Linked DNA regions of Homo sapiens. The protein of the gene in region 3 purifies or fractionates together with the protein of the main gene of each other region. This does not show direct contact. Each region holds a gene or a part of one and is shown on either strand. Other genes may lie near its edges.

Evidence for each region.
Region 1: the proteins of YLPM1 (region 3) and NCKIPSD purify together in Homo sapiens (co-immunoprecipitation; one large-scale study listed by IntAct). This does not show direct contact.
Region 2: the proteins of YLPM1 (region 3) and SMARCC2 fractionate together in Homo sapiens (co-fractionation; one large-scale study listed by BioGRID). This does not show direct contact.
Region 4: the proteins of YLPM1 (region 3) and NBEAL2 purify together in Homo sapiens (tandem affinity purification; one large-scale study listed by IntAct). This does not show direct contact.
Region 5: the proteins of YLPM1 (region 3) and CEP135 purify together in Homo sapiens (co-immunoprecipitation; one large-scale study listed by IntAct). This does not show direct contact.
Region 6: the proteins of YLPM1 (region 3) and ECI2 purify together in Homo sapiens (co-immunoprecipitation; one large-scale study listed by IntAct). This does not show direct contact.

Annotation. Positions count from the first base shown.
Region 1 is NC_000003.12:48,675,916-48,679,415, reverse strand, and holds part of NCKIPSD (NCK-interacting protein with SH3 domain), read left to right. Parts: coding exon 1-39; intron 40-232; coding exon 233-361; intron 362-446; coding exon 447-539; intron 540-679; coding exon 680-852; intron 853-3,500. UniProt on the Homo sapiens protein: Has an important role in stress fiber formation induced by active diaphanous protein homolog 1 (DRF1). Induces microspike formation, in vivo. In vitro, stimulates N-WASP-induced ARP2/3 complex activation in the absence of CDC42.
Region 2 is NC_000012.12:56,165,484-56,168,983, reverse strand, and holds part of SMARCC2 (SWI/SNF complex subunit SMARCC2), read left to right. Parts: intron 1-789; coding exon 790-924; intron 925-3,284; coding exon 3,285-3,500. UniProt on the Homo sapiens protein: Involved in transcriptional activation and repression of select genes by chromatin remodeling (alteration of DNA-nucleosome topology).
Region 3 is NC_000014.9:74,783,816-74,787,315, forward strand, and holds part of YLPM1 (YLP motif-containing protein 1), read left to right. Parts: intron 1-3,500. UniProt on the Homo sapiens protein: Plays a role in the reduction of telomerase activity during differentiation of embryonic stem cells by binding to the core promoter of TERT and controlling its down-regulation.
Region 4 is NC_000003.12:47,000,166-47,003,665, forward strand, and holds part of NBEAL2 (neurobeachin-like protein 2), read left to right. Parts: coding exon 1-239; intron 240-835; coding exon 836-1,014; intron 1,015-1,113; coding exon 1,114-1,273; intron 1,274-1,523; coding exon 1,524-1,661; intron 1,662-1,754; coding exon 1,755-2,123; intron 2,124-2,205; coding exon 2,206-2,355; coding exon of another isoform or gene 2,356-2,369; intron 2,370-2,479; coding exon 2,480-2,637; intron 2,638-2,791; coding exon 2,792-2,916; intron 2,917-3,008; coding exon 3,009-3,144; intron 3,145-3,500. UniProt on the Homo sapiens protein: Probably involved in thrombopoiesis. Plays a role in the development or secretion of alpha-granules, that contain several growth factors important for platelet biogenesis.
Region 5 is NC_000004.12:56,011,445-56,014,944, forward strand, and holds part of CEP135 (centrosomal protein of 135 kDa), read left to right. Parts: coding exon 1-78; intron 79-355; coding exon 356-541; intron 542-3,500. UniProt on the Homo sapiens protein: Centrosomal microtubule-binding protein involved in centriole biogenesis. Acts as a scaffolding protein during early centriole biogenesis.
Region 6 is NC_000006.12:4,122,076-4,125,575, forward strand, and holds part of ECI2 (enoyl-CoA delta isomerase 2), read right to left. Parts: exon of another isoform or gene 3,296-3,500; coding exon 3,175-3,295; exon of another isoform or gene 2,885-3,174; intron 1-2,884. UniProt on the Homo sapiens protein: Able to isomerize both 3-cis and 3-trans double bonds into the 2-trans form in a range of enoyl-CoA species. Has a preference for 3-trans substrates.

The DNA.
Region 1 (3,500 bases), on a different chromosome or scaffold from region 3:
TCTTCTCCATGGGAGAGGCAGTGCCCTATGCACACTATGGTAAGAATGCAGTAACCGACCAGCTGATCACAGGTCCTAAGCCAGGGCCCATTGCCCGAGGGCCTGGGACCTGCTGACTACACAGCCTAGCAGGGAGAGGCTATCCCCAAGGCTCACAGAAAGCCAGGAAGGGTGGGTGGTGCGGGGGTCGGAGGGGAATGGGGCTGCAGACTTCTGTGCGCCCCTCTCCCAGAGCACCTGGGCACGCCTTTCGCCCAGTTCCTACTGAACATCGTCGAGGATGGGCTGCCCTTGGACACCACAGAGCAGCTGCCGGACCTCTGCGTGAACCTGCTTCTGGCTCTCAACCTGCACCTGCCAGGTGGGGTGGGGCCTGGCTGGGCGGTGGCTGAGCACATGGTGGCTCTCAGGCTCAGCACCCTGTCTATACCCATGTCCTTCCTTAGCTGCTGACCAGAATGTCATCATGGCTGCCCTGAGCAAACACGCCAATGTCAAGATCTTCTCCGAGAAGCTGTTGTTGCTCCTGAACAGAGGGGGTGAGGGCCCGGGAATCTGCGCGGGTACCACTTCCATGCCCTGTGACTCCATGACCCCTGCAATGACTCCCGTAACCCCCTGGGGTGACTCTGGGATCCCCACAAGGTCCACCCTGACCGCTATGACCCCTGCCTCCTAGATGACCCTGTGCGCATCTTCAAACATGAGCCACAGCCACCACACTCTGTCCTCAAGTTCCTGCAGGACGTGTTTGGCAGCCCGGCCACAGCTGCCATCTTCTACCACACAGACATGATGGCTCTCATTGACATCACTGTGCGGCACATCGCAGACCTGTCACCAGGAGACAAGGTGCCTGGAGGTGGCTGCAGCAGCGGGGGTCACTGTGTGGAAACTGAAACAAAATGGTGGGGGGCATGACATTGAGTGGAGATGAGGGGGCAAGGCCACTGCTGGAGCCAGGTAAGTGTAGGAGGCCATGATAGGTGCACCAAGACCCAAAGGAGCCAGCCATGAGGTGATCTGGAGGTGGTGGGGCTGGAGGAGGCTGGAGAGGAGGGAGTGGAGGGAGATGAGGCATGGAGGATGGAGTTTACACAAAGCCTCGGAGGCTGCTGCAAGAGGTTGTGATCTCAGGACCGGGGAATGTGATGTGATTAACATCCCACATGGAATCAACTGCATGCCAGCAGAGTGGAAGCCAGCCAGGGAGGAAGCAGCCTCAGTGGTCCAGGTGGCATGGATGGGGTGGGGATGGGATAGGTCGTGGCAGTGGCAGTGGCGAGAAGAGGCCAGCTGTGGAGTGTTTAGTAAGTGGATCTGGCAGGGCTTGCCACTTGATTTATCTTGAGCAGCTAGATGGATGAAGTGCTGATTTTTGAAGTTGGGGAGGCTGGGAGAACTTCTTGGGGGAAAATAGAGAGTCGTGTTTTGAATGTGTCAAGAATGAGGAGATATCTGCTAGACACCCAGGTACCGAGGGCATCAGGGAGGCAGTGGGGAATGAGTTGAGACTAGAGAGACATTTCGGAGTGGTCTATGCAGAGATACGATGGGAAGCCTGTGACAATGTGATTGCCTCAGAAATGAGATAGATAGGCAGGTCAGCGGGAAGTTCGGGCTGCAGCCCTGGGCACAGCTGAAACAACTAGGGAGAAACCCAGGAAGAGAACCAAGAAAGCAGGAGCCCAAAGCCACATGTTTAGAGGAAGACGATCAGCCATCTCTATACCGTTAGGAGCCTGAGCGAGACTGGGGTTGGCCATTGGATTCACCACACAGAGGTCAGTGGTGCCTGACAAGCAGTGTCAGTGGGGTGCAAGGAGGAGAGTCTGAATGAAAGTTTGAGAGAGCTTGAAGTTATTGGGGAGTAGAAATGAGGGGAGGGTTGGAAGCAGTAAATGGAGACAACTCTTGTGAATTTTCTATTAAGGGGAAGAGAAAAATGGAAGGGAGGTTGCTGGAGAGAGATGACATGGGGATAGGGAGAGTGTTTTTTTGGGGGTTTTTTGTTGTTGTTGTTTGTTTGTTTGTTTGTCTCCCACTGTTGCCAAGGCTGGAGTGTAGTGGCACGATCGTGGCTCACTGTAACCTCCGCCTCCTGGTTTCAAGTGATTCTCCTGCCTCAGCCTCCCAAGTTGCTGGGATTACAGTCACCCACTACCACACCCAGCTAATTTTTATATTTTAGCAGAGACAGGGTTTCGCCATGTTGGCCAGGCTGGTCTTGAACTCCTGACCTCATGCAATCCACCTGCCTCAGCCTCCCAAAGTGTTGGGATTACAGGTGTGAGCCACCGTGCCTGGCCAGGGAGAGTGTTTTGAAGATGGGGGATGTTGGCCAGGCGCGGTGGCTCATGCTTGTAATCCCAGCACTTTGGGAGGCTGAGGTGGGTGGATCACTTGAGGTCAGGAATTCGAGACCAGCCTGGTCAAAGTGGTCTCTACTAAAAATACAAAATACGAAAAATACAAAAATTAGCTGGGTATGGTGGTGGGAGCCTGTAATCCCACCTACTTGGGAGGCTGAGGCAGGAGAATTGCTTGAACCCGGGAGGTGGAGGTTGCTGTGAGCCAAGATCACACCACTGCACTCCAGCTTGGGTGACAGATGGGGGATGTTGGCCAGGTGCAGTGGCTCACGCCTATAATCCCAGCACTTTGGGAGGCCGAAGTGGGAGGATCACTTGAGTCCATGAGTTCAAGATCAGCCTGGGCAACATAGTGAGACCTCTGTATAACCTGATGGACCACAGTAGAAAATAAAATTAGCTGGGCATGGTGGTATGCACCTGTAATTCCAACTACTTTGGAGGCTGAAGTGGGAAGATTACTTGAGCCCAGGAGGTCAAGGCTGCATTGAGCCATGATTGTGTCATTGCACTCCAGCCTGGGCAACAAAGCCAGACCTTGTCTCTTTAAAAAACAAAAACAAAAATGGTACGGATGATGGTGCATGTTCTGAGCCGGAGGGAATGATCCAGCAAGCACAGAGAGATGGATGATGTGTTGGAGATGGTGAGCCACCACAGGAGTCAAGTGGATGGGGCAGGAGGGGAGAGTTCAGGTCCAGGCCCACATGGACAGGAGCTAGGGCTGCTCATTCTGGTAGGGACAGGTGAGATGTGGGTACTGAGGGGAAAGACGGGTTTCTGCAAGATTACTTCTGTATTCTCTATGAAGCACAAGGCCAGCTGACAAGGTAGGTAGGTTTCAAAGACAGAGAAGGTGGACATTATTACTACTCTAAGGGAGAGTGACACAGCAGAGAAAAGCAGTGGGAGGCTCAGGCAGTGCTGTGTGTCCGTTTGAGGTTTGCGGTGGTGAATGACATTCAGGCCTGCACATGGCTCTGCATTTGTCTATAGCTTAGACGCTGGTGTTTGATGTGCAGGCACCTCAGTATGACTCCCAGGGCTGGGACTTAGCAGGGTGTGCTGCCTAAAGGAGGTTTTGGTATTATTTCTCTAATTAAAGGTAAAAAGAGAAATGAGGGATGT
Region 2 (3,500 bases), on a different chromosome or scaffold from region 3:
TTTTGAGATGGAGTCTCACTCTGTTGCCCAGGCTGGAGTGCAGTGGCACAATCTCGGCTCACTGCAACCTCCACCTCCCAGGTTCAAGCGATTCTCCCACCTCAGCCTCCCAAGTAGCTAGGATTACAGGCACGTGCCAGCATGCCCGGTTAATTTTTGTATTTTTAGCAGAGATGGGGTTTCACCCTGTTGCCCCAGGCTGGTCTCAAACTCCTGGACTCAAGTGATCTGCTCGCCTTAGCCTCCCAAAGCGCTGGGATTACAGGCATGAGCCATCACACCTGGCCAAAATAATTTAATTTTTTAAAAAGGCTGGGCGCAGTGGCTCACGCGTGTAATCCCAGGACTTTGGGAGGCTGAGGCAGGTGGATCACCTGAGGTTGTAAGTTTGAGACCAGCCTGGCCAACATGGTGAAACCCCATCTCTACTAAAAACACAGAAATTAGCCGGCGTGGTGGCGCATGTCTGTAATCCCAGGTACTGGGGAGGCAAAGGCACGAGAATTGCTTGAACCCAGGAGGTAGAGGTTACAGTGAGCTGAGATCATGCCACTGTACTCCAGCCTGGGCAACAGAGTGAGACTGTCCCAAAAAAAAAAAAAGAAAAAAGAAAAAAGACACGGTGGCTCACGCCTATAATCCCAGCACAAAAAAGTCAAGCCCTTTCACCATGGGTTGTGACCACAGCAAATTTGTTCTTATACCTGCCAGCATCCACCCTACCTTTCTTCTGTATTGTCTTCAGTTGGGTCCTCCCACTGATGTGCTGTCTCGCCCCTCCTTCCCTAGCACTTGGCTGCTGTTGAGGAAAGGAAGATCAAATCTTTGGTGGCCCTGCTGGTGGAGACCCAGATGAAAAAGTTGGAGATCAAACTTCGGCACTTTGAGGAGCTGGAGACTATCATGGACCGGGAGCGAGAAGCAGTGAGTAGCAGGAGCCCTGGAACCCTGCTGCGCTGTGCCTCAGTTTAAAATCGGAGGGGCGTGTGTGTGTGTGTGTGTGTGTGTGTGTGTGTGTGTGTGTGTGTGTGTTTCAGTGAAAGAGAGATAAGCAACAGTGGGGAAAGCCTGAGTGTGTGTGTGTGTGTGTGTGTTTCAGTGAAAGATAAGCAACAGTGGGGAAAGCCTGAGACAGACAGGGCTTCAAAGCAGAGCAGGGCAGGAACAGGGCAGGAGTAGGGCAGCCAGTTAGAGACAGTTAAGTGGTCTCACAAGTGAAGTCTGGGGACTGAAGTCCCACAGAAGGTCAGCTCCATGAGGCAGGGACTCTAGTTGGTTGTTTTGATTGCTGCATCTCCAGGTCCTTGAACAGTGCTTGGCCCATAGTAGACTCAAATAGTGATTGAGTGAATGGGCGTAACGGATGATGAGAGAGAGGGTAAGAGCCTCAGATCCAGGAGGTGAACTTGGAAAGGGAATGGGACCGACACAGTGTTGAACCATTTTGTCTTTGGAGGACATAAAAAGAAATAGACAATAGGGACTGGGCACAGTGGCCCACATTTGTAATCCTAGTACTTTGGTACACTGAGGCAGATGGATCACTTGAGCCCAGGAGTTCAAGACCAGCCTGGGTAACATAGTGAGATCTCTGTCTCAACAATTTATTTTATTTATTTATTTATTTATTTATTTGAGACAGAGTTTCGCTCTTGTTGCCCAGGCTGGAGTGCAATGGTGTGATCTTCGCTCACCACAACGTCCGCCTCCTGGGAAGCGATTCTCCTGCCTCAGCCTCCCCAGTAGCTGGGATTACAGGCATGTGCCACCATGCCCAGCTAATTTTGTATTTTTAGTAGAGATGGGGTTTCTCTATGTTGGTCAGGCTGGTCTCGAACTCCCGATCTCAGGTGATCAGCCCATCTCTGCTTCCCAAAGTGCCGGATTACAGGTGAGTCATCACGCTTTTTTTTTTTTTTTTGAGATGGAGTCTTACTCTTTCGCCCAGGCTGGAGTGCAGTGGTGCAATCACGGCTCACTGCAACCTCCGCCTCCTGGGTTCAAGCGATTCTCCTGCCTCACCTCCCGAGTAGCTGGGATTACAGGCACATGCCACCATGACCAGCTAATTTTTGTATTTTTAGTAGAGACAGGGTTTCACCATGTTGGCCAGGCTGGTCTCAAACTCCTGACCTCAGGTGATCCGCCCACCTCAGCCTCCCAAAGCGCTGGGATTTCAGGCATGAGCCACCGTGCCCAGCCCAAACATTTTTTAAAAATAAACAAATTAGCCGGGCGTGGTGGTGCGAGCCTGTGGTCCCAGCTACTCAGGAAGCTGAGGTGGGAGGATCGTTTGAGCCCAGGAGGTCAAGGCTGCACTGAGCCATGTTTGCCCCATTGCATTCCAGCCTGGGTGACAGAGTGAGACCCTATCTCAAAAAAAAAAAAAAGAAGAAAAAGAAATAGAAGATAGGGACCTCAGAGAACTTAAGGTTTAATGGGAGACATCAAATGAATATACAATATGGAGACATCAGAAACAGTTAAGAAGGTTTAAAGTATCTGACAAATTCACATTAAGAGATTGCACATCAGCCGGGCGCGGTGGCTCACACCTGTAATTCCAGCACTTTGGGAGGCTGAGGCAGGTGGATCACGAGATCAAGGAGATCGAGACCATCCTGGCTAACATGGTGAAACCCCGTCTCTACTAAAGAATAAAAAAATACAAAAAATTAGCCCGGCATGCTGGCACACACCTGTAATCCCAGCTACTCGGGAGGCTGAGGCAGGAGAATTGCTTGAACCGGGGAGGCGGAGGTTGCAGTGAGCTGAGATCACGCTACTGTACTCCAGCCTGGGTGACAGAGTGAGACTCAGTCTCAAAAAAATAAAGAGATTGCACATCAAGTTTCTAAGTCCTGAGATCATAGAATAAAGCTAAAGCTCAGAGGCAAATGAATTGATCTGGGATAGCTTCCTAAGAACAGTGACTTTTTAGTGAATTTTGAAGTAAGAAAAGAACTTGAATTGACAAAAGGAACTGGAAGCATTTTCCAAATCAAGGTAATGGCAAGTTCAAAGCTTTGTAGCTGAAGTGAGCTTGGGCCAGGTTAAAGTCATTGCAATAAGAAACCATGTGGGCACTCAGGAGACATAAAGGTCATGGGAATTTGCACGAAGTCGGGTGGGGAGGACAGAGGGAGCACAAGCACAAGATGTAGATTTTGGGAACCTTCTGATTGAGAGGCAGGCTCTTTCAGAAGAAGACAAAGCAGGGGTTGAGGCATTTGCCTTTGGGATCTGCTGAAAATTGGATAACAATACTCAATTGGCACTGGCAGCTGGAGTATCAGAGGCAGCAGCTCCTGGCCGACAGACAAGCCTTCCACATGGAGCAGCTGAAGTATGCGGAGATGAGGGCTCGGCAGCAGCACTTCCAACAGATGCACCAACAGCAGCAGCAGCCACCACCAGCCCTGCCCCCAGGCTCCCAGCCTATCCCCCCAACAGGGGCTGCTGGGCCACCCGCAGTCCATGGCTTGGCTGTGGCTCCAGCC
Region 3 (3,500 bases):
ACATTATTATCTCATGGAAGTCTTCTCAACAACCTGTGAAGTAGGCAGATTATTCTCCATTTACTCTTAACAAAATGGCACTGAGAGGACTGCGTAACTTGCTCAGTCAGGATTATTTAGCAGAGTGAGTAGAACCCCAGAATAGGTACAGTTGAGTCTAGAGGGTCCCCAAAGCAAAAGTACTATTTAAGCTCTGTTTACTGCCATGATTCAAGCCTATACTGTCAGTGCTTATTTGGCATGTGTATCATCTTGATTTGAATTCGTTCTTAATCTCCTGGAATGAGCATTGCCTTTTAGATCTGGTAACTAATTTGCTATCAGAGAAGTACATTCTTAACACCTCATGAAACATACATTTCCTGCTCCCTTGATTTCCGTCATGTTAATATTTTCTCTCTTTGCCTACTAAATCTTGGCTGTGTGAATTTAGGACCTATTTTAAGTTTTGTCTTCAGAAGAAAATAACTTCTCAAGTTAATAATCTCTGTGCTGGGAGGATATTAGCAATTATCTAATATATCTGTCTACGGCAACGCACGTTTGTATTCCATTTCAGTTTGTCACAATGAGTCTTGCACATATCATCTTATTTATTCCTCTTAGTGATATCAGGAGGTAAATAAATACATAAGAAAAGCTGAGATTCAGAGAGGTTGTAAATACCTTGCCTCATATAACACAGCTAGTAAATGGTCAAGATGAGATTAGAATCCAAGGACTTCTGACCCACTTTAAGTCCATTGTACTTTCTGTGATGAGCAGTTGTATGCTTAACATTGGCATTGTGATTAGGAACACTGCCATATAAGGCATTGATTCTAGAAAGTTTGTTTTTTACATTGAACCTAAATGTGATTCTTTAACTTTTATCTGTTGATTCTAGATTTGCCTCTGGAGCAACACAGAATGAATTATCCTATGCCTCTTCTACAGCATGTCACTACAGTTATTTAAAAACTATTACCCTCATGTCTCCCTCACCCTACCTCACCCAGTTTGCTCTGCCAATCACAACTCAGATTCTTTTCATCTTAACATTGTTTCTAACCTCATCCTGCTGTACTGCTCACTGTCCTTTGAAGGGCCTTTAGTTTGTTAGTCTCCTTCAGAATGAACACTTACTTCAGATGCAGAGGAGCATGGGCCTAGTACCAACTTCATTATAAATAATGTGCTTATATTGTATAGCTTAACAAATTGCTTTTTTGTTTGTTTTTTTCAGCACTCTCACAGTGTTGACTCTTGTTGAACTTAACATCAATCTAGCTTCCCAGGTCTTTTTCACATTAGCTTTTATTAAGCCAAGTCTCTCTTATCCTGAACTTGTGTGGTTGGTTTTTTGTTTTTGTTTTTCTTGTTCCTTTTTCTAAGACTTTACATTTCTCTTTAGATTGTTTTCTAGTTAGGTTTGCACCATCATTTCAGTCTGCTGAAATCTTGGTCAATGATGATTATATTGTTTTAGGTATGTGATATCCCTCTTCAGCATTTTCATCTGCAGCTTTGATAAGGATGGCTTTTTAATCCTTGAATTGGATCCTACTCACATTATCCACCTTGTTTTGAAAACGTTTCCCCTAACTAGCTTATGTCATTGCCATTTCAGTCACCCCCTGCTGCTTTTGCTCACTCAGCCCTTATAGAGTATAGTTTGGGACTGTTACCCAGGCATAGTTCTTTTTCTCCAGTGTAACTAGGTAAAAAATCAGTGGGAAGCTGGTTAGTGAGTGAACAAGACTGAGGTAAGAATAATCTATACTATTAAGGAAACCTGTGAACTTCTTGTATTTCTAATTCAGATTTTGCTATCAAACATATAACTGATATGAGAAGCCACTTTTTTTAAATAATCAAAGCTGATTAGAAAAACAAGAGTTTAGAACACAACTAAACAAATTTACTGATAACATGCTGTTACAAATAAAGTACTGTAAATGGCTTTGAGTTTTTGCAAAATCCAGATTTAAGCTGCTTTATAAAAACGAGATTTCTAAAAAGTCATGTGACAAAACTGCATGACATGTAAATAACATATCACATTGTTGAGAGTCTAGGGGAGCTGTTTTGACACTGTGTATATCATTGGATTCACTCAGTCTTCCAGAAGACTACCGTTGGTCCAGAAAACTGTCATATCAATGGATGTTGGTTTTCCAGGACCTTTTTTTTCACATATAATAAAACTTATTGAAACGTAACAGAGAAGTGCACAATTTTAAGTGTTCAGCTTAGTGAATTTTCACAAAATAAAGACACACATTGGCCAGGTGCGGTTGCTCATGCCTGTAATCCCAGCACTTTGGGAGGCTGAGGGGGGAGCGGATCATGAGGTTAAGAGTTCGAGACCAGCCTGGTCAATATGGTGAAACCCCATCTCTACTAAAAAATACTAAAATTAGCTGGCATGGTAACATGCGCCTGTAGTCCCAGCTACTTGGGAGGCTGAGGCAGGAGAATTGCTTGAACCCGGGAGGCGGAGGTTGCAGTGAGCCAAGATCGTGCCACTCTACTCCATCCTGGGTGACAGAGTGAGACTCCGTCTCAAAAAAAAAAAAAAAAAAAAAGGCACACATGGTATCACTACTAGATCAAGAAATAGGAATTACTGGTGCCCAAGAAATCTCCCTCATCCCCCTCAGTTATTTTCTAATACCCCAAAGATAACTGCTATACTGAGCCATAGATTAGTTTTGCCTATTTTTGAACTTCATGTGAGTGAAATAATACTGTATGTACTCATGAGTCTGGCATCTTTCACTTGACATTGTATTATTGTGAGAGTCATCCATGTTGTGTGTAGTAGTAGTTTATTCCCGTTCCTGTACAATAGTTCATTGTATGAATATAACACAATCTGTTTATCCATTTTAATATTAATGGTCATTGAAGTTTTTTGGTTATTATGAAAAGTGCTGCTGTGTGTCTTTTGATGCTGTATGTGTCCCTTTAGATGTATGTGTTTGTTTGTGTGTGTTTAATTTTGTTTGGATATCTATTAAGGATTGGAATTGCCTGATTATAGAGTATATACATGTTCTGCGTTAATGGGTATTGTTAAACATTTTTCCAAAGTGGTTGTTTCAGTTTATATTCTCACCAGCAGTGTTTCAGTGTTTCAGTTTTTTTGCATCCTTATCAACACTTGGTATTGTTAAACTTTTAAGGTTTAGCAATCCTAGTGGATGTTTAGTGGTATCATGATAATGGATTTAATTTACATTTCCCTGATGACTAATGAGGTTTCACTTTTTTTATTTGATTATTGTTAATTTGTATTTCCTCTTTTATGAAATGCTGATTCAAGTCTTTTTCCCATTTTTTGACTAGGTTTTATGTCTTACTGATTTTGTAGGAGTTCTTTGTGAATTCTACACATCAGTTTTTTATCCATTATATGTATTACAAATTTCTCACTGCAGGACTTTTTATTTTCTTAATGAGCACTTGAATGTAAACGCTGCATGCTGGGTACAGTGGCTCATGCCTGTAATCCCAGC
Region 4 (3,500 bases), on a different chromosome or scaffold from region 3:
TTGACCTGGGCCTGGAACGGTCTAGTGTAGGATCAGGCAACACTGCTGGTGGTGGCGGCAGCAGTGGGACTCTTACTCCAGCCAGCCAGCCCGGCACTCCTTCGCCACTGGATGGGCCGCGGCCCTTTCCTGCTGCTCCTGGCCGCCACAGCTCCAGTCTCTCCAATGTGCTGGAGGACGGCAGCCTCCCGGAGCCCACCATTAGCGGGGATGATACCTCGAACACCAGCAACCCACAGGTGAGGTGGGCCCACCCTCTGCCACTGCATGGTACCCAAGGGAGGACACTTCTGGTACACAGGGCTGGCAGTGTAGCCTCTCCAAAGGTGTGGCCCTGTCTGACCAGGGTTGCAGCCACTGGTCAGGCCTATTGCTGTCCCCTCATAGCTCTCATCTGCAGTTGTGTTCCCAGAGGGCTCCTGGAACAGGGTGAGTCATGATGAGCCACAGTGGGTGACACCAGCCAGGCTTCAGAAGGGCCCTCAAGAGAGCCTGTAGGGCAGACACCTCACAGGGTCCAAGGGCAGCAAACTCCAAAGGCCCTGCCCTGGGCTTCTGGGTTTGGGGATGGGCCTCTGCTTGTTCTATGTGAACTGCCTCATCTCCTCTTGGGAGTCTGGCAAGACCCCAGGATTCTGCCTGGAACTCAGGTAGTAGTTGAGACCCCTATACCATTCTTCCAGGCCCTTAGTGCCAGGCTCACTGTTAGCCAAATGCTCTGACTCCTGGGTGGCTACCCCAGGAGGGGTGCTGAGTGGGGATGGGTGGGCGTCAGCCTGATTCCCTCCCTTAGCCGCCCACAACCCACGCCCACACCACCCACCTGTGCCCACAGCAAACCTCTGAGGAAGAGTTGTGCAATCTGCTCACCAACGTGCTGTTCTCGGTGACGTGGCGTGGCGTGGAAGGCAGCGATGAGGCTGCCTGGCGGGAGCGTGGCCAGGTTTTCTCAGTGCTCACCCAGCTGGGGGCCTCAGCCACACTTGTGCGCCCACCAGACTGCATCAAGCGCAGGTGAGAGGGAAAGTCTGGAGGGGGAGGGGCTTCAGGAAGCCTCGGGGGAAGGAGAGAAGATAGTCAGGTAGACCCTTGAGTTCCCCACTCACCCGCCAGCCTCCTGGAGATGATGCTGGAGTCAGCCCTGACCGACATCAAAGAGGCCCCCGTGGGGGTCCTGGCCAGCCTCACCCAGCAAGCGCTTTGGCTGCTGCGTCTGCTGCAGGACTTCCTGTGTGCTGAAGGCCATGGTAACCAGGAACTGTGGAGTGAGAAGGTGCGACCCCTCAGAGAGGCGTGAGCCACATGAACACTCATGTTCATGCAAGCCTGCAGGGATCTGGTCTGGGAGGTGGATGGGTACACGTGCGCAGGTGTGGGTGCATCAGCATGAATGCCTGTGAGTGTGGACTTGCCTGTGTGCACAAACCCTACCTGGCCCCCAGCGCAAACTTTACTTTGCTCCCTTTCCATGGACTCCTGGCCTCCCCTGGTGATGTCTGTTGGGAACCTGTTTTCTGTGGCAGCTCTTTGAAGGTGTATGCAGCCTACTTGATCGCCTGGGAGCCTGGCCCCACCTGGCCAACGGCACAGCTGATCTCCGTGAGATGGCGCAGATTGGCCTACGGCTTGTACTTGGCTACATCCTGCTGGAAGACCCACAGGTGAGCACAGGGTGAGCATGGGGGCAGGGGGCGTGTGAGATGTCGGGAGCTCCAAGAGTGGCTGGGTGCCACTCATCTCTCTTGCGCCCACAGCTGCATGCCCAGGCCTACGTGAGATTGCACATGCTGCTACAGACTGCAGTGCCAGCCCGCCGCGAGGAGGCCTGCTATGTGCTCTCCAAGCTGGAGGCTGCACTGGGGCGGGTGCTGAACACCTCTTCCTTGGAGTCAGCCACTGATGAGGCAGGGTCCCCACTTGCAGCTGCAGCAGCTGCAGCAGCTGCAGAGCGCTGCTCCTGGCTGGTGCCACTGGTGCGCACGCTGCTAGACCGTGCCTATGAGCCGCTGGGGCTGCAGTGGGGACTGCCCTCCCTGCCACCCACCAATGGCAGCCCCACCTTCTTTGAAGACTTCCAGGCTTTTTGTGCCACACCCGAATGGCGCCACTTCATCGACAAACAGGTGCCTGGAGGTTGGGGCCCAGGAAGAGGAGTGGGGGCTGGGGCCCACATCGAGCACTGTTCTCCTCTGCCCAATCCTCCAGGTACAGCCAACCATGTCCCAGTTCGAAATGGACACGTATGCTAAGAGCCACGACCTTATGTCAGGTTTCTGGAATGCCTGCTATGACATGCTTATGAGCAGTGGGCAGCGGCGCCAGTGGGAGCGCGCCCAGAGTCGTCGGGCCTTCCAGGTGTGCCACCCGGGGTAAGGGATGGGAAACTGCTCCACACATGCACCCAGGAGATGACTGACAATGTGGAGAAACGGGTAGGGCAGGCAGCAGCCAGGGGACTGACCTATTACCCCCACCCCAGGAGCTGGTGCTGGAACCTGCGCAGAGGCGGGCGCGCCTGGAGGGGCTACGCTACACGGCAGTGCTGAAGCAGCAGGCAACGCAGCACTCCATGGCCCTGCTGCACTGGGGGGCGCTGTGGCGCCAGCTCGCCAGCCCATGTGGGGCCTGGGCGCTGAGGTGGGCCGGGCTTGGGGCAGGGTCGCTGTGGAGGGGTGGGGCTTGGGAGGGAGGGAGCCACCTGGAGCCCCAGACTGCCTTTGGGGTGAGGCCAGGGAGGGATGGGGGTGTCTACAGCCTTCTACCGACCCATGACCTGGGGGACATTCTGCAGGGACACTCCCATCCCCCGCTGGAAACTGTCCAGCGCCGAGACATATTCACGCATGCGTCTGAAGCTGGTGCCCAACCATCACTTCGACCCTCACCTGGAAGCCAGCGCTCTCCGAGACAATCTGGGTGAGGGAGTGTGCTGAGATGGGTCCACCCAACTCGATTGTCCCGTCTCCTGTCCTGCCTTGCTTCTGCTGAGTACCCTTGGCCCCTTGCAGGTGAGGTTCCCCTGACACCCACCGAGGAGGCCTCACTGCCTCTGGCAGTGACCAAAGAGGCCAAAGTGAGCACCCCACCCGAGTTGCTGCAGGAGGACCAGCTCGGCGAGGACGAGCTGGCTGAGCTGGAGACCCCGTGAGTGGGGCCCTGGAGAGATTGGACTGGTGTGGTGGGCAAGGGGTCTGCTCCAGTGTGTGCATGCCTCTGTGGGATCAACTCCCTGAGTGTGTCCTCTTCTGCTGCCCGACTACGTCCCCCTGAAGGGACTGTCCAAAGCCAGATGGTGAGTGGGAGAGTCTCCTAACAGGGCTGAGAGTTGCTCTTTTAACAGCCAGGCACCTGAGGACAGCACTGAGAAACACAAACCAGAGCAGGAAGGGGGCCCAGGGAGTGGGCAGGGGCTGGGTGAGGGGAGCAGGGGACAAGGGTTGGCATCCTGGCAAAATATTCAGAAGCCCAGTGGGTGGCAGGTGGGGGACAGGGGCTGGGAC
Region 5 (3,500 bases), on a different chromosome or scaffold from region 3:
GAAAAAGAAGAAATGAAGAGCAGAGTTCATAAATACATAACAGAGGTGTCACGATGGGAGAGCTTAATGGCTGCCAAGGTGAAAAATATTATTTAGGTTGGATTTAAGACTGAGGTTTTTTTTTTTTTTAACTTTTTCATGTGCCTCTACAATTAGATATTAAACATTTTAAAGTAGAGATCTTGTCTACTGCCTTTTTCTATTTTTCCCATAGATTTTAGTGTGGTACCTGCACAGATATCTAATGCTTCCTAAATTAGAACAGAATGCTGTGTATGTGTATGTGTTTATGACATAGGTGTTCCAGGAAGTGACAATTACTAATTTAGAAACAATTTTATTGTGATTAAACCAGGAAAAAGAAAATCAAGATTTGTTAGATAGATTTCAGATGCTTCATAACCGTGCTGAAGACTGGGAGGTCAAAGCCCATCAAGCTGAGGGAGAAAGCAGCTCAGTTCGACTGGAACTTCTTTCTATTGACACTGAGAGGAGACATCTTCGAGAAAGAGTGGAGCTATTAGAAAAAGAAATTCAAGAGGTAATATATTTATTTGTTTTGTAAAGATGTTATTTAGTGAAACAGAAAACATTCAAAGATACTTTATTTATTTATTTATTTATTTTTTTTGAGATGAAGTCTGACTCTGTTGCCCAGGCTGGAGTGCAATGGCACGATCTTTGCTTACTGCACCCACCTCCTGGGTTCAAGCGATTCTTCTGTCTCAGCCTCCTGAGTAGCTGGGATTATAGGAGTGTGCCACCACACCTGGCCAATTTTTTGTAGTTTTAGTAGAGATGGGGTTTCACCGTGTTGGCCAGGCTGCTCTCGAACTCCTGACCTTGAGTGATCCACCTGCCTCAGCCTCCCAAAGTGCTGGGATTACAGGCATGAGCCACCGCACCCGGCCTCAAAGATACTTTATTGACCTGAGGTCGTAAACATTGATAAAATCAAGTTCAGTGGTAAATTTCTGTCATTCTCATAATTTGCATAGAAGCCCATTACTTTTTTTTGTAGTAAAAGATACATACATCAAATTTCCCATTTTAACTATTTTTAAGTAGACAGTTCTGTGGCATTAGTACATTCACAATGTTGTGTAACTATCACCATTATTTGTCATTCTGCTTTCTGTCACTATGAATTCGATTACTCTAGATACCTCATATAGTGGAATCACACAATGTTTGTCCTTTTGTGACTGATTTCACTTAGCCTTAAGGTTTACTTTACCTCAAGGTTCATCCATATTGTGTAGCATGTGTCAGAATTTCATCCTTTTTTAAGGCTGAATAACATTTCATTGTATGTATGTACCACATTTTTGTTTAGCCATTCCTCTGTCAATGGACATTTGATTTGTTTCTACCTTTTGGCTGTTGTGAATAATGCTGCTATGAACATGAGTATACAAATATATCTGTTCGGGTGCTTGCTTTCAGTTCTTTTGGGTATATACCCAGAAGTGGAATTACTGGATCATATGATAATTCTGTGTTTAATTTTTTGAGGAATAGCCATGTGGTTTTTCCGTAGGTGCTACACCATTTTACATTTCTACCAGCAATGCACGAGGGTTCCAGTTGCTCCATATCCTTGCCAACACTTGTAATTTTTTTATTTTTTATAAGAGCCGTCATAATGGGAATAGAGCGGTATCTCGTGGTTCTGATTTGCATTTCCTTAATGGTTAGTGATGTTGAGCATCTTTTCATTTGTTTATTGACGATTTGTGTATCTTCTTTGGAGACATGCTTATTCAAATCCTTTGTTCATTTTTTAATCAGATTGTTTTAAATTGTTGTTGTAGAAGTTCTTTACATATTCTGGAGATTAATACCTTAGTGTATACGTGATTTGCAAATATTTTCTCCCATTGTGTGGGTTGCCTTTTCAACAGTTTTTGATGTACAGAAGTTTTCAATTTAAATGAAGTCCAATTTTTTTTTTCCTTTGATGCCTATACTTGTGGTGTCATATCCAAGAAATTATTGTTAACTGCAATGTCATAAAGCTTTTCCCCTATGTTTTCTAATAAGAGTTTTATAGTTTTAGCTCATATATTCAGGTCTTTGTTTCATTTTGAGTTAATTTTTACAAATGATATAAGAGCCCAGCATCATTTTTTTGCATGTGGATTTAAATAAGATTTTGTCATAAAGACAGTCTGATAAAAATCTCATAATAAAAAATTTGAGTTCAGTTAAAATATAGGGACCCTGGGTTAGATTGATATACAATAGTTGGCCATTATTGTCATTTTTGTTTTGTTTTGTTTGTATAGTTTTATAATTTTTATCTTTCAGGAGAAAGTATTGACTATCTGTAGCAGATAGAATTATAGCCTCCAGAAAGATATATTGAGCCCCAGTCTCTTATTTGGAAAAAGTGTCTTTGCAGATGGAATCAAGTTAAAATGAGGTCATAGCGGATTAGGGTTAGACCCTAAGACCAATGGACTGATGTCTTTATAGGACAATGGATATTTGGACACAGAAAACACAGGAGAGAACACCACGTAAAGATGGAGGCAAAGATTAGAGTGATATGTGTAGAAGTCAAGGAGTGTCAAGGACTGCCAGTAGCCATCAGAAACTAGGAGAGAGGCAAAGAACAGATTCTGCTTCAGAATCTCCAGAAGGAACCAAACCTGCCAACACCTGAATTTTGGACTTCCAGCTTACCGAATTGTGAGAGAATAATTTCTATTTTTTTAGGCCACACAATTTGTGGCAATTTGTTACAGCTGCCCTAGGAAACTAATACAGATTATAGCACCAGAAAGTGGGTTGCTGCTACAACAAACACCTGAAAATATGAAAGTGGCTTTGGAATTGGGTAATGAGTAGAGACTGAAAGAGTTTTGAAGTGCTTGACAGAAAAAGCCCAGATTGCCTTGAAGAGATCATTGGTAGAAATAGGGACATGAAAGGCAATTGTGATGAAGACTCAGAAGAGATGAGAGCTGTAAAGAAAACTTCTATTATTTACAGAATACATATGTTGTCATGGATGGATTTTGCCAGAAATATGAATGTTTCCTCTGGTGATGTCTCAGACAGAGTTGAGAAAAGATGTTACTTGTTATAAAGTGACAGAGAACTTGGCTAAGTTACGGTCTACTGTTGGGAGAAAAGTAGAATTTGTAAGGGATGAACTCGGATATTTAGCTGAGGAGATTTCCAAGCAAAGTGCGGAAGAGACATCCTGGTTTCTCCTTGTTACTTACAGTAAAATATGAGAGGAAAGAGAGAAATGGAGCAAGGAACTGAAAAGCAAAAAAGAAAGCAAGACATGAAGCCAGGTGTGGTAGCTGACACCTGTAATCCTAGTACTTTGGAAGGTCAGGGCAGGCAGATCGCTCAAGCAATCCACCTGTGTCCACCAAAAAACTACGCTCAGGAGTTCAAGACCAGCCTGGACAACATGGCAAAACCCCATCTCTACAAAAAATACAAATAATTAGCCAAACATGGTGGCACGTGGCTGTAGTCCC
Region 6 (3,500 bases), on a different chromosome or scaffold from region 3:
TTAAAATGCTGATTTTCAGAAAGAGAGCAGCAGGTGGAGTTAAGGGTTTAGGCTCTGGCGTCAGACTACTTAGGGACGTTGGGAAAGTTTCTTACCCTCTCTGTACCACAGTTTTCTCATTTGTAAAATGGGAACCAATCCTTCTTTGCTTTTTTTTTTTTTTGAGACGGAGTCTTGCTCGGTTGCCCAGCCTTGAGTGCAGTGGCGCAATCTCAACTCGCTGCAACCTCCGCCTCCCGGGTTCAAGCGATTCTCCTGCCTCAGCCTCCCGAGCAGTTGGGATTATAGGCGTGCACCACCACACCCAGCTCATTTTTGTATTTTTAGTAGAGACGGGGCTTCACCATGTTGGCCAGGCTGGTCTCGAATTCCTGACCTCAAGTGATCCACCTGCCTTGGCCTCCCAAAGTGCTAAGATTACAGGCATGAGCCACCATGCCCAGCCTAGATTGTAAAACTTATTTTTGCCACATTGGAGGAGAATGTTTGTTTTTATAGACAGGGTCTCACTCTGTTGCCCAGCCTTACTCTTGCCTCAGCCTACCAAGTAGCTGGGACTACAGGCGCCTGCCACCACACCTGGCTAATTTTTGTATTTTTAGTAGAGAAGGGGTTTCACCACATTGGCCAGGCTGGTCTTGAACTCCCGACCTCAGGTGATCCACTTGCCCTGGCCTCCCAAAGTGCCAGGATTAGAGGCGTGAGCCACTGTGCCTGGCCAAGTCCTTCTTTCATCGGGCTACTCTGTACATTACGTGAATATGTGTGTGTGTATGCGTATATTTATAATATACATAATGCATGTGAATAGAGTGCCTAAACAGTGACCACTCAAAGATTTATTATTGTTATGATTTCTACCTTTTTCTTAACTCATACAGGAAATGTATCATTTGCTGACAGAGCTAATAGGCATTATTAACCATTGCCCACAGTATAAAATAGATTAAATGTACTGATTAATATTTTGGTTATATGGGTTAAATATTAACCCATCATTTAATATGATATTTATTCTTGAAGCCAATAATGGTAAATCTTATAAAACAATTTTTTCTACAGCCTTTTCCTTTAGCATATTTCCTTTATTTTATTTATTTTTTACTTATATATTTTTTTGAGACAGAGTCTCGCTCTGTCACCTAGGCTGGAGTGCAGTGGTACGATCTCGGCTCACTGCAACCTCTACCTCCTGGGTTCAAGCAATTCTCCTGCCTCAGCCTCCAATGTAGCTGGGATTACAGACACCCGCCACCAAGCCCGGCTAATTTTTATATTTTTAGTAGAGATGGTGTTTCACCATGTTGGCCAGGCTGGTCTTGAACTCCTGACCTCAGGTGATCTGCCCACCTCAATTTCCTTTATTTTAAATGATGCTTGATTTGTTTGGTTGGGTAAACTTTTATCAGAAGACACTATTTGACAAATAAATTTTACTTTTGGCCAAATTTTTTAGCATTTAATATATATATGCAATATACATATATTATAATATATATAGAATAGATATGTTTTATATGTATTATGTATATATGTTTTCTGATTTCAACATTTATTACAATTTATATCATAAGATGGAAGTCATCAACATTTTTAAAAGGTTGATGCAGGCCAGGCTCAGTGGCTCACACCTGTACTCCCAGCACTTCAGGAGGCCAACGCAGGCGAATCACTTGAGGTCAGGAGTTCGAGACCAGCCTGGCCGACACAGTGAAACCCTGTCTCTACTAAAAATACAAAAAAATTAGCTCGATGTGGTGGCACGCACCTGTACTACTCAGGAGGCTGAGTGGGAGAATCGCTTGAACCCGGGAGGTGGTGGCTGCAGTGAGCCAAGATCGTGCCACTGCATTCCAGCTTGGGTGACAGAGTGAGACTCCCATCTCTTAAAAAAAAAAAAATAAGGATGATGTATATTGAAAGTAATTTTCAATTCAGTGGGAGAATCAGAACAAGATTCAAATACAATATTTGCCCTCCAAGTATTAAAGAATGAGATCCCCAATTTTAGGTCAGGAACCATTGACCCAGTCCCTGTTAAAAGCAGGTCAATGACTAATCAGTCATCTAATACACAGACTGTGAACAAAGACATTGATTTCTGCCTTTGAACAGAAACCTCTACCTACAAAGGCTGGGCAGCCTGGCACCTAGAATCTCATTTGCTAATTTTGTGGGAAAATTATTCATAAGAATTAGGTCTGTCAATACATCCAATCTGGTTCAATGGAATCCAGCAAAAGAAAATTCGAAGAATTAAGGATGCTATTATATGGTCCTGTCTATCAGTGGGGAAAATACCTCTGAACAAAACTAGAAATCTCTTCAGTGGTAAAAACCATATGCTCCCTAGAAGGCTGCAATCATCAGCACAGTTTACCATCACATAAGCATAAGTCACTGGACAATCTGATACCCTAAAGGTGGTTATTAGGTGCTTGTAATGATAAAAATTGGAAACAGCCTAGGGTTCCAGCAGTCAGGGACTGGTTAAACAAGATAAGTTAATAACCCAAACGTTAGGACTGGTTATCTCTAGGTGGCAAGATAAGGAGTGATTTTTACCTTGTAGCTTTTCTTGGTACTTTTTCATATCTTTCAAAATTTTATTTTCCACTATGACATATATATTACTACTGTAGTAAAAATAAAAACTAAAATCTGTATAATGCAATGGTGAACACAAGGCTGAATTGTGTTCTGGGCAAGGAACTTCTCAGAGCTTCAGTTTTCTTATCTGCAAAGGAGGGAGTGACAGTAGATAATGCTCACAGGTCCTTCTCCTTCTAAAATTCTAAATCCATTTACTCAGTAAAAAGGATCAACTAATCCCTTGCACAACCTGCAAAGATGCTATTCCTCCCTCCCATAACAAATTTTCAAGTGTCTCCTGAATCTTTCAGAATAACATGAAAGCTGTATACCTATTGTGGAATTTGATTAGAATCCGGAACAGTCAGAGTTGGAACAATGTTCACAACAAAATGCAAGTTAATAATGAAGGAAAAATAAAATCAGTCAAATCAGCCTAATGCTTTGGGAAAAATCTAAATTCAGTTAATTCTACCACAAACAACATGTAACCTGCTTATGACTGGCAACGCTGAAGGAGGATTCAAAGGCTCTCATCTCGCGCTGCTTGCCTGACCTCTTGCTTTCTAGGAGCTGACTTACCCTGTCAGATGCATACACGGCATCGAATAGCCCAAGGAGGGTGACGGAGATGCCCACAGCTGGACCATTGACCACTGCAATCAGAGGCTTAGGAAAATCTATAAAACAGCCCACAAATTCCCTACAGAAATGGAAACACAAAATCATTAAATGTGCCAAAGCAGCATGACTAAAGCATGGGCAAGACAGTCTGACTCTGAGATAAAGCCTTCTGTCAGGCTGGGTGTTTCCACAGCCACCACCAGCAGTGCCTCCTTGTCCTGCCACTTCCCTGGTCTTCCGCACCAGATTCATCCAGGGCATCCGTCTGAATGGCAGTGGATGGA